Regions from separate parts of the Homo sapiens genome. Here region 1 is linked to region 2. Evidence: fine-mapped expression QTL. Tissue or cell type: whole blood. Region 2 holds a variant in brackets; the other region holds the start of a gene. All regions are shown on one strand. Distances are from middle to middle.

Region 1 (5,119 bases), 150 kb before region 2:
GATCTCCTGACCTCATGATCCACCCGCCTCGGCCTCCCAAAGTGCTGGGATTACAGGCGTGAGCCACCGCGCCCGGCCAATTTCTTTTCTTTTTTCTTTTTTTTTTTGAGGCAGTTTTGCTCTTGTTGCCCAGGCTGGAGTGCAGTGGTGCAATCTTGGCTCACCACAACCTCCGCCTCCTAGGTTCAAGTGATTCTCCTGCCTCAGCCTCCCGAGTAGCTGGGACTACAGGCATATGCCACCATGCCCGGCTAATTTTATATTTTTAGTAGAGACGGGGTTTCACTATGTTGGCCAGGCTGGTCTCGAACTCCTGACCTCAGGTGATCCATCTGCCTTGGCCTCCCAAAGTGCTGGGATTACAGGTGTGAACCACTGTGCCAGGCCTCGGAGAAGGGTTATTATTTAAACTAGAAACTAAATGTCTCCCAAAGTTAGCTCGGTTCGAGCCAGGAATGATTAAGGGCAGTCTGAAGATTAAATGGAAGATGAGGGTTGGTTAGATCAGATCTCTTTCACTGTCATTATTTTCTCACTGTTACAATTTTTGCAAAGGTGGTTTCAGCAATAAAAATATTTCACAAATTTTACAAAAGCAAAGGACCATGAGGACATTGTTGGGGACCCTCCCTGAACCAAGGAAGAGACTGTGACTCTTCCTTGGTTCAGGGAAGGTCCTGAACCAAATCGAGGGTCGGTAAAGCTTAAGCTCCATTATTTCCAAATTTGTGTCACCTCTGGTGACAGCACAAGGAAGAAACACAAAACAAGAACGCAGCATAGGGAGTTGGGGCTGGGCATTGCAATTCTCAATAGGATGTTGAGTGGATGGCATCAGAGCAGACACCTGAAGGTGCCATGCAGATACCGATGGGGAAGGGAATGGGAGTGGGGGTGCCACTGCATTCGATTCTAGACTTGGATAACAGTGAGTGCAAAATCCCAGAGGTGGAGCGTGCCTCAGTGGGAAAAGCAAGGAGGGCGGCGTGACAAAGGGACCCAGAGAGTCCTGGTCACACAGCAAATCAGTGGCGGAGTAGGGACTGGAACTCGGATTTCCACTAGGTGTTGTGTATGGGCAGATGGCTAAACTAAGGCCTCTCCTTGACTCATACACCGGTTTTTATTGGTTTGCTTTATAACCCCATCTCTACCTTGAGGGTTTCCCCTGGCCTCGAACCCGGTGTACTCAAGAGCTGCCCATGTCCCAGGCTTCGCGACACAGCTGGCCTCATCTTTGCCTGCTCCAACTTTAATGTCCAAAGTTGGGTGGCTCCTGTTCTCCATTCCCTCTTACTGCATGGGACCAAATCTCAATTTTTTTTTTTCTTTTTTTTTTTAGACGGAGTCTTGCTCTGTCGCCCAGGCTGGAGTGCAGTGGCGCGATCTCGGCTCACTACAGCCTCTGCCTCTCAGGTTCCACCGATTCTCCTGCTTCAGCCTCCTGAGTAGCTGGGATTACAGGCGGACGCTACCACTCCCGGCTAATTTTTGTATTTTTAATAGAGACGGGGTTTCGCCATTTCGGCCAGGCTGGTCTCGAACTCCTGATCTCAGATCATCCACCCGCCTCGGCCTCCCAAAGTGTAGGGATTACAGGCGTGAGCCATCGCGCCCGGCCAAATCTCAATTTTTATCCCCAGTAAGTTTAGTCTTGTGAAGTCCGAACGTTTGAATAATTTACTCGCTGCAGGCAAACCGCCTACAACTAAATCCATCAGGCCCCCGTATCCGAATCTTCCTTCACGCGAGAAGCCGGCCATCTTTTGTGTAGCATTCTTTCTGGTTCCTCTAACTTTGCCTCTCCTTTACGCCAAATACGTGTCCTTATATCTGAATCTACACCACTATTATAGATTCACCTTCTTTGAGAAGTCCCTATTTGAAGAGAGGAAAATTCAGGCTACTTGTAACCCTCTTATTCTTTTTAGACGGAGTTTTCCCTCTTGTTGCCCAGGCTAGAGTGCAATGGCGCGATCTCGGCTCACCGCAACCTCCGCCTCCCGGGTTCAAGCGACTCTCCTGCCTCAGCCTCCCGAGTAGCTGGAATTACAGGCATGCGCCACCACTCCCGGCTAATTTTGTATTTTTAGTAGAGACGGGGTTTCTCCATATTGGTCAGGCTGGTCTCAAACCCCCGGCCTCAGCCTCAGGTGATCCGCCCGCCTCGGCCTCCCAAACTGGTGGGGTTACAGGTGTGAGCCACGGAACGCGGCTCCTCTTCCTTCTGGATATGGCTGTCTCAGATGGCCAGAGGCCTCGGAAAGGCTTCCGGTTTCCCGGCAGGCCCGAGTGGGGCTGAACTTCCGGCCTCAGGACGCAGGCGCGGGCCGCTCATTTCGCTCTTTCCGGCGGTGCTCGCAAGCGAGGCAGCCATGTCTTATCCCGCTGATGATTATGAGTCTGAGGTAAGGTGGCCGTAAGGGCGCGGTGGGCTCCACGACGGGGTGATCTCTGGGACCACTGGATGTGGGTCCCGGCGCGAGGCAGCTTCCGGGTCGCGGCCAGCTCCGGCCGACCTCCCGCCCGGCCCTCAGGCTGCTCCCACAGTTCCCGGTCCCTAGACAACCCTGGCTCTGCCCGCCCACTTCGCGTGTTCGATTGGCTTGTCCTTCCCCTTTCTAAGACCGGAGACTAAGGCCTGTTAGACGTTTCTGTGTTTCTGCACCTGAGTTTTTTTGGTCTAGGCTCCGTCTGGTCAAATCTCGCTGATTCCCACAGCCTCTTGTCCTTTGCTCCACCTCATTGCACCCGTAATGTTGTATTGTCATTGTCTGTTTACTGTCCCTTTTCTCTAAGGCGTGTGAGTTCCTCAAAGGCAGGCACAGTGTCTTATTCGCCTCTGTATCCTTAGCTCTCTGCTTGGCATCTAGACTCTAGGATGAGCGTTTTGAATTCACGACTTGGCGGCTGTCCTTGACTGTGTCTCTTTCCTTCTAGGCGGCTTATGACCCCTACGCTTATCCCAGCGACTATGATATGCACACAGGTGAGACCACGGGTTAGGCTGGCTGAGTACTCGTAGGGATCAGTTCCTTTGGAATGTCTTAGAACCAGCTCTGACAGGCATCAAAAATTGCTCTTTGATGGTCCAGGTTTGGAGTCAGTCATTAGCTGCCAGTGCGAGGGGTTTTATAAAGCCTAATAAACCAGGCTTTTTATCATAGTCCACCTCAGTCTTGGAAGAGAAGGATTACTTACCTGGCTATGGTTTTCTTGTGTAAACTATTAGCCAAATAAGAAAAGCTTTTTTGTTTTTGTTTTTGTTTTTGTTTTTGAGATGGAGTTTCCCTCTGTCCCCCAGGCTGGAGTGCAGTGGTGCGATCTCGGCTCACTGCAACCTCCGCGTCCCTCGTTCAAGCAGTAGTTCTCTTGTCTCAGCCTCCTGAGTAGCTGGGATTACAGGCGCCCACCACCATTCCCAGCTAATTTTTAAATTTTTTTAATAGAGACGAGGTTTCGCCGTGTTGTCCAGGCTGGTCTTGAACTCCTGACCTCAGGTGATCCACCCGCCCCAACCTCCCAAAGTGCTGGGATTACAGGCGTGAGCCACCGCGCCTGCCCCAAGGAAGAAAATCTTGATGTGAAAAATTTAAGTAATTCAAACCAAGCCCGAATGAAATCTTTTTAGGAGGTGTCTGAGGTTTCCTGAAACGTTATAGTGACTTGACTTAGTAGTCAGTGTTATCCATTGTTCTAAGTACTTTGTATGAAATATTTTGTTTAATCCTTACAGCAGTTCTGTATGTTAATGTCTCCTAAAGAATAGAAAATATAGCAGAGAGGTTTATTAGTAGTAACTTGGCACAGTCATATATTTAAAAGGTGACAGTTATTCATTCAAGAAATATTAAGTACCTGTTACCACTTACTTTCCAACAGTCTTGCCTCTCTCCCCTCCAACGCACACTTTTCTAGGCCCTGAGGGTATGTCTGAGTACAAGACAGACGAGATTCCTGACTTCCTAGACTTGGGAGAAGGGTGCAAAACAGATAATAAGTGAAAAATAACTTTAAGTCATGGTAATATTTTTGAAGAAACAGGGACAACGAGATTGGGAGTGACTTGAGATGTTTGTATCTCTGAGTATTCAAAAGGGAATTTTACGCAGACCTGAGTTTAGTTTCTGGGGTGGTCTTGCCATTTCGTTCTATCATATATGTGGGTTTGAGCATACTCTGTATTTGTTGTATCCAACCTCCAGGAGATCCAAAGCAGGACCTTGCTTATGAACGTCAGTATGAACAGCAAACCTATCAGGTGATCCCTGAGGTGATCAAAAACTTCATCCAGTATTTCCACAAAACTGTCTCAGATTTGATTGACCAGAAAGTGTATGAGCTACAGGCCAGTCGTGTCTCCAGTGATGTCATTGACCAGAAGGTGTATGAGATCCAGGACATCTATGAGAACAGGTATGGGCTACTGGCTGAAAGGGCCTCTTTCTGGGTGGGACTGGCCTGGTAATATAGTTCCTACAAATGAGGTGAGCACTCTGTAAACAGTACTTTCGGGGGGGTTGGGGGGTGGGGGTCTTTGTGAGTCCTTGAGGCTAGGGACATTTTATTTTGTTAGACTTTATTTTATTTATGCATTTGTTTATTTTTTGAAACGGAGTGTCACTCTGTCGCCCAGGCTGGAGTGCAGTGGCAAGATCTCGGCTCACTGCAACCTCCGCCTCCTGGGTTCAAGTGATTCTCCAGCCTCAGCTTCCCGAGTAGCTGGGACTACAGGCATGTGCCACCATGCCTAGTTAATTTTTTTGTATTTTTAGTAGAGACAGAATTTCACCATGTTGGCCAGGCGTGTGTTGAACCCCTGACCTCAAGTGATCCACCCGCCTCAGCCTCCCAAAGCACTGGGATTACAGGTGGGAGCCACCATGCCTGGCCTAATTTTTGTATTTTTAGTAGAGACGGGGTTTCATCATGTTGGCCAGGCTGGTCTTGAACTTCTGACCTCAAGTGATGTACCCCCGTTGGCCTCCCAGAGTGCTAGGATTACAAGCGTGAGCCACCATGCCCGGCCTGTTGGACTTTATATCCTCAGAAATTTATACAAAGCCTAAAATAATATCACTATTAACAATTATAATAATAATGATTAGCATTTGTTTTT
Region 2 (5,198 bases):
CCAGCCGGAGTCTCCCCTCCATCCCCTCCTCTGAAGGCCTCTTCCCCCTGACCTTTCTCCCTTCTTTTCCACTTCGGCCTCCACCTTGTTTCTTTCTCTGTCCATTGCTCCCTCCTTCTCCTCTTTCTGTCCCCAGCCTCCTCTCTCTGGGAAGCTTTTTAATTTTGACCCCACATCCCACAGTTGGTCGCTCCTGCCTCTTGGTGTCCTTCTTGTCCTGGCCCTCCTGCCCTGGCTCCCTGTCTCTCTCCAGCCCTGTCTCTGTCTCTCCCTGTTTTTCTCTCCCTGATGCGTTCTCTCTGTCCCTCCCTCCATGAATTTCTCTGTCTCTGTCCTGTGCCACCTCTCATCTGCCCTGCCTCTGTAAATGTGGGGAGGACCCTGGGAAAATGACAGAGATGGGGAGAGCTGACAAGTTAGAGAAGCCAAGGCTTGTGGCAACCTGCAGTCTTCCCCACCTGGCTCCAGCCTACCTTCCCCAGGACACCCGGCTCTGTCCCCTGCATGCCCTGGGTCACCCTGCCCCTCCCTCGTGCCTGTGCCCAGCTCCGCATCTCCCTCTTCCCATTTCCAGCTTCCCTGAGACTGCCCCGGGGCCCTTTCTCTGGCTGTCCCAGGGACCTCACCTCCTGTGAGCCCACAGCTCACCGTCTGTCGAGGGGGGACAGGCAGGAGGTAAGGATGCGTCCGAGCCTCCCTAGGACACGACCCTCACAGAGTCATGGACCGCAGGATTTGTACCATCTCCTGGCGCGAGAGCCAGGGTTGCCCAGATTGATGGAAGAGCAGGTGTTTGTGTCCCCTTCCGGTGAGAGCTTTCCAGCGCCCAGAGAGCCAAGACGGCTTGTGGAATTGGGGAAGAGGCAGGGAGAGGGTGGGAAGTGGGAGTGGAGGGGTATGTTCTTCCCCTCCCGGGGCCTCAGTTTCTCCTCACAAGCTCTTCCCTCTCTCTCATTGTCTAAGCCTTTCCTTCCCGCCTCTGGTCGATTGGGGGTGGGGCAGGGGCAGGGAATGAGGGGATGTTGGGCTTTTACTCAACGGAGCAATTTATCCTGTGATCAAAAGAGGCCATGGCCGCCTCATCTCTCCTCAGAGACCTGCCCTGACAGGTGGTGTCCTGCCTCCAGTCCGTGTTAACTCCCTCAAGGCCAGGGCCGGGCCGAGGGTCTGAGCCTTCCACCTGCCCCTTGAAGGGGCCTCCCTGGGGTCCAGAGACATCAGGCTGGCCCTGGGGAGGCTGTGGACCCTGGGCCTCACACTTACATCTGGACAGGCCTTCTGACTTCCAGGGCCTGGTGAGAACCTCAGGTGAGGAGTTGCTGTCAGGCTCCCTGGGCAGGTTGGGGTGGTCCTGCTGTCCCACCCTGGGGACTTTATTCCAGGGGCTGTGGGCTGGAAGGAGCCCCTGTTCCTTCCAGACTCCCTCTCTGCACCCTCCCTACTGCTGGCCCTGTGGCCCTGGGCGTGGGATGTGCAGAGGACCGGCCAGGAGAAGGGTTAAGTCAGGGACTCTTGGGATGGCTTTGGCCACGGCCATTCCTCCGAGAGAAGAGAACAAGGGGCCCATTCTGTGTGTGGGAATTAATAGCAAAGAGTCATCTGGGGTGTCACTCAAGCACTGATCGACTCCCAGAGGAATGTGAGAGGGAGAGAGAGAGGGAGAGGAGAGGAGAGGAGAGGAGAGGAGAGGTGTGGTGGGGGCTGAGACGGAGATGTCAAAGGCAGGGCATTAGGGTCTGGCTGGTACAGGAGCCCGCCCTGGTAGGAGGACCCGCCGCCCCAAGATGGGTCCTGCTTTTCACCACAGATGCGCCCCCGTCCCTACACAAGATGAAGACCCCCTCCTGTCATTCCCTCACCCAGGGCCTCCCCCTTCTGTCTTCCCTCATTCCCAGACGGCCGTACCCTCTACCCCGAGGTGGGCCTGCTGGGCAGCTGGCCCTGAGTTCCTGGGCTCTCCCAGTCTGCCCCCATCTTTGCTGAGAGATCCAGGTGCTCCTTGTGGGAAATGCCCTGGGGATGGTGCTGTGGAGTGCCAGCCTGGGGTCCTGAGTTGTACCCTCTGTCCCAGGATCCAGGAGCCCCACTTGCCTGGCTCCAGGCCCAGTTCAGACACATTTCTACCGGGTGGCTGCAGGCACCTTTGGCCGCCTGCGTGTGGGGATGCTGGAGCTTGTCGGCCATCACAGGGGGCTCAGCCTTCCTCGTCAGCTCAGGCCCCTGTGGCAGCCTCAGCCTGGCCTGTGGTCACTGAGGACCAGCAGGTCTCCTGACATCCGAATGTCATACCCTAAGGAAGGCCTTGGCGAGGCTCCAGGAGGCCTAGGAGGGTGTGGTGCTCTCCTGCTCCAGTTGTGGGGCTGAGTCAGAATCCTCCCAGGTCATCTGCACCTGGGCGTCCTGACACCCCTTCCCCTCCCCAGGGCCTCAGGCTGGCCACCGAGCCGAAATGAGCCTAGACTCTGTGGGACGCAGAGGCAGTGGGGTGCGGAGGATGAGGGCTTTGGGGCAGTCAGAGCAGGGTGCCCCACTCCTTGGCCCTGTGACCTGGGCAGAGCTCCTTTGTCTCTCTGAGCCCCGGGGTTTCCTCTTGAAAATGGGTCATGTCATAACTGGCAGGTTCAGAGGTAAGAGAAGGTAACAGGTGTCAAGTGCCCGACACAATAGCCAACCACTGTGTGTTGTTATTTTTATTGTGAT[G/A]ATTATTGTTATTGGAGGGCTGGGCAGCCTCCACTACCCTTGGGCTGGAAGGCACACTGTGCACACCATTTGACTGCCTGGATCTGCACCTGGCAGCCTGTGCCCGCTAGGCGAATCGCAGGGATCCCAGCACTGTTCCTCCTCAGCTGTGGTTTTGGCGAGGGTGAGCTTATTGGCCCCCAGACCTCCTGTGTGCCAGCGTCATTTCCATATCTGGTGACTCATCCTGCTGGTCCTGCCGGAACATGATGCCTCCCCTGACGGCATGGTGCAGGCACAGTGTGTGCAGCCACTGGCCTCGGTTCCTCCCCTGGGAGTTGGCCACCTGCGCCCCCACGGTAGACTCTGGCATGCTAAAGCCTGAAGGGAGCTTAGCGGTTGTCCAGCCGGACCTTCTTATTGTACTGACAGGGAGCTGAGGTCTAGAAAAGAGAGGGCCTTTCTGGGGCACTGTGGAGTAAACAGAGTTGGCAGGCTCTTCTACATTGGGCTAGGAGTCTGGACTCCTGGGTTCTTGCCCAAACTTGGATGCTAGGGGCCAAGTGGGCTGGGAAAATTCCTTACTTATAGCTGGGGTGGGGAGAGGACACACGGAGAAAGAAGGTGGAGCCTTTTGCAAACTAAAGTGCTTTCCAAATATGGGGGGTTATCAGGAGGGTGGCTTTGGGCCCCTCGAGATGGTGCTGACCCTGTGTTCCTCTGCAGTCTGTGCAGGGCACTAGGGTGGTTGGTGTCACCAGCCCAGGGGCTGCTGGACACAGGCCCCACCCAGAGGAATAAGCCAACACCATTGAGGAGGGGCAGCCCAGGGCTCCCTGCCTGGCTTTGGAGGTGTAAGGTGTTTGAAATAACATTCTCCAACATGCTCAAAGTGAAACCAGCTTCCTTTGGGAACATATGGAGACCACAGGCACTTCACAGGGGCTGATGAGGACCCACCAACTCTGCTGTGGGCTCTGTCCCTGCCCTCGGAGCTCATAGCCTGGTGACCTTGGCATTCATTATTTTCATTCCAGTTCTCAGCACAGCGCTTGGCACATAGTAGGAACTCAGGAAGTGTTTATGGGATGGAATGGGGTGATGATGTTGAGGCAAGATGAAGGGTATGAACGGAGATGACATCTGCGTCTTGCCTGGAAGCAGAGGGTAGGAAAAGGAGCAAGTAAGGAGTGGCGGCTGGCATGGGTGCAGCACCACTGAGAGGAGGGGTTGAGAGAGGTTAGAGAAGGACTAGAGTCAACACTCCTGAGAGCCCTTCTTTGCCCTGTGGCCTCTTACTTGCAAGCTAGTTCCCCTCTCTCAGCCTCAGTTTCCTAATCTGTAAAACAGGGATAATAGAATTTATTCATGAGTTGTTGCAAGGCTCAAGAACGGTAACACATGGGCCATGGCAGGCTCTCGACCGTGCCTGCTGGACACCCAGTGTGTTGTGAACAGAGATCTTTAGAGAGAACAGATAAAAATTACAGAAGTATCTTATAGAGACACAGTTGACAGATACAGAAATAATGTGAGTTGCATCATATTAGATTCAGAGAGATTAAAGATAGATTTTTAGGGGAATTTACGAATTTATTCATTTTGGGGACACAGAGAGCGATGAGCACTGGGATGGAGACAGTGAATGCCTGACATTGGAGGCTCCTGGACTATAGAGTTGCTTTGTTTGTTTTTTGGATGGAGTCTCATTCTGTTGCCCAGGCTGGAGTGCTATGGTATAATGTCGGCTCACTGCAACCTCTGCCTCCCAGGTTCAAGCGATTCTCCTGCCTCAGCCTCCTGAGTAGCTGGGATTACAGGCATGTACCACTATGCCTGACTAATTTTTGTATTTTTAGTAGAGATGGGGTTTCACCATGTTGGCCAGGCTGGTCTCCATCTCCTGACCTCAAGTGATCTGCCCGCTTAGGCCTTTCCAAGTGCTGGGATTACAAGTGTGAGCCACCTTGCCTGGCCAAGTGGTTTTTTTTGGATGGAGTCTCACTCTGGTGCCCAGACTGGAGTGCAGTGGCATGATCTTGGCTCACTGCAACCTCTGCCTCCTGGGCTCAAGCAATTCTCCCACTTCCGCCTCCTGAGTAGCTGGGATTACAGGCACCTGCCACCATGCCTGTATTTTGTAAAAATACGAAAATACAAATTTTTGTATTTTTAGTAGAGACCAGGTTTCACCATGTTGGTCAGGCTGGTCCCAAACTCCTGACCTCGGGTGATCCATCCACCTCAGCCTCTCAAAGTGCTAGGATTACATGCGCGAGCCAGCACACCTGGCCTTTTTTTTTTTTTTAATTTATTTTTTTCCCCAAACTTGGACAAAGCATATCACTTCTAGACTTTTTATTGGGCCACAAAAGTGCTTAAGAACTAAAGAAGAAAACTCCAGCTCCAAAGTATACAAAAATAGCAACAGAGAAATTATTCAAAATTTTAAATGAAAAATAAAAAAGACTCTTTAAAACTTGTTTATAGCCAACCAGTTCTATGTAGCATGTGACGTG

What was found. PIP is the estimated chance that this variant, and not a neighbour inherited with it, causes the effect.
Region 1: it holds the start of EIF3L, and the variant in region 2 is fine-mapped to the expression of EIF3L in whole blood (INTERVAL, PIP above 0.99).

Annotation. Positions count from the first base shown.
Region 1 is chr22:37,847,075-37,852,193 of GRCh38, forward strand. EIF3L (eukaryotic translation initiation factor 3 subunit L) reads left to right here and starts at 2,345. Exons shown (of 13, transcript NM_016091.4): 1 at 2,345-2,408; 2 at 2,941-2,989; 3 at 4,206-4,416. The coding sequence starts at 2,376. MIR659 (microRNA 659) reads right to left here and starts at 700; the gene lies at 604-700. It also overlaps a transcript of ANKRD54 not described here. RefSeq lists enhancers at 1,464-1,986, 1,987-2,509, 2,510-3,031.
Region 2 is chr22:37,997,177-38,002,374 of GRCh38, forward strand. It overlaps a transcript of POLR2F not described here. Among named protein-coding and RNA genes, the nearest start is that of MIR4534, 11 kb to the left of the region's middle. RefSeq lists enhancers at 1-11, 1,162-2,016 and a silencer at 1,406-1,700. The variant G/A (reference allele first, on the strand shown) is at 2,701.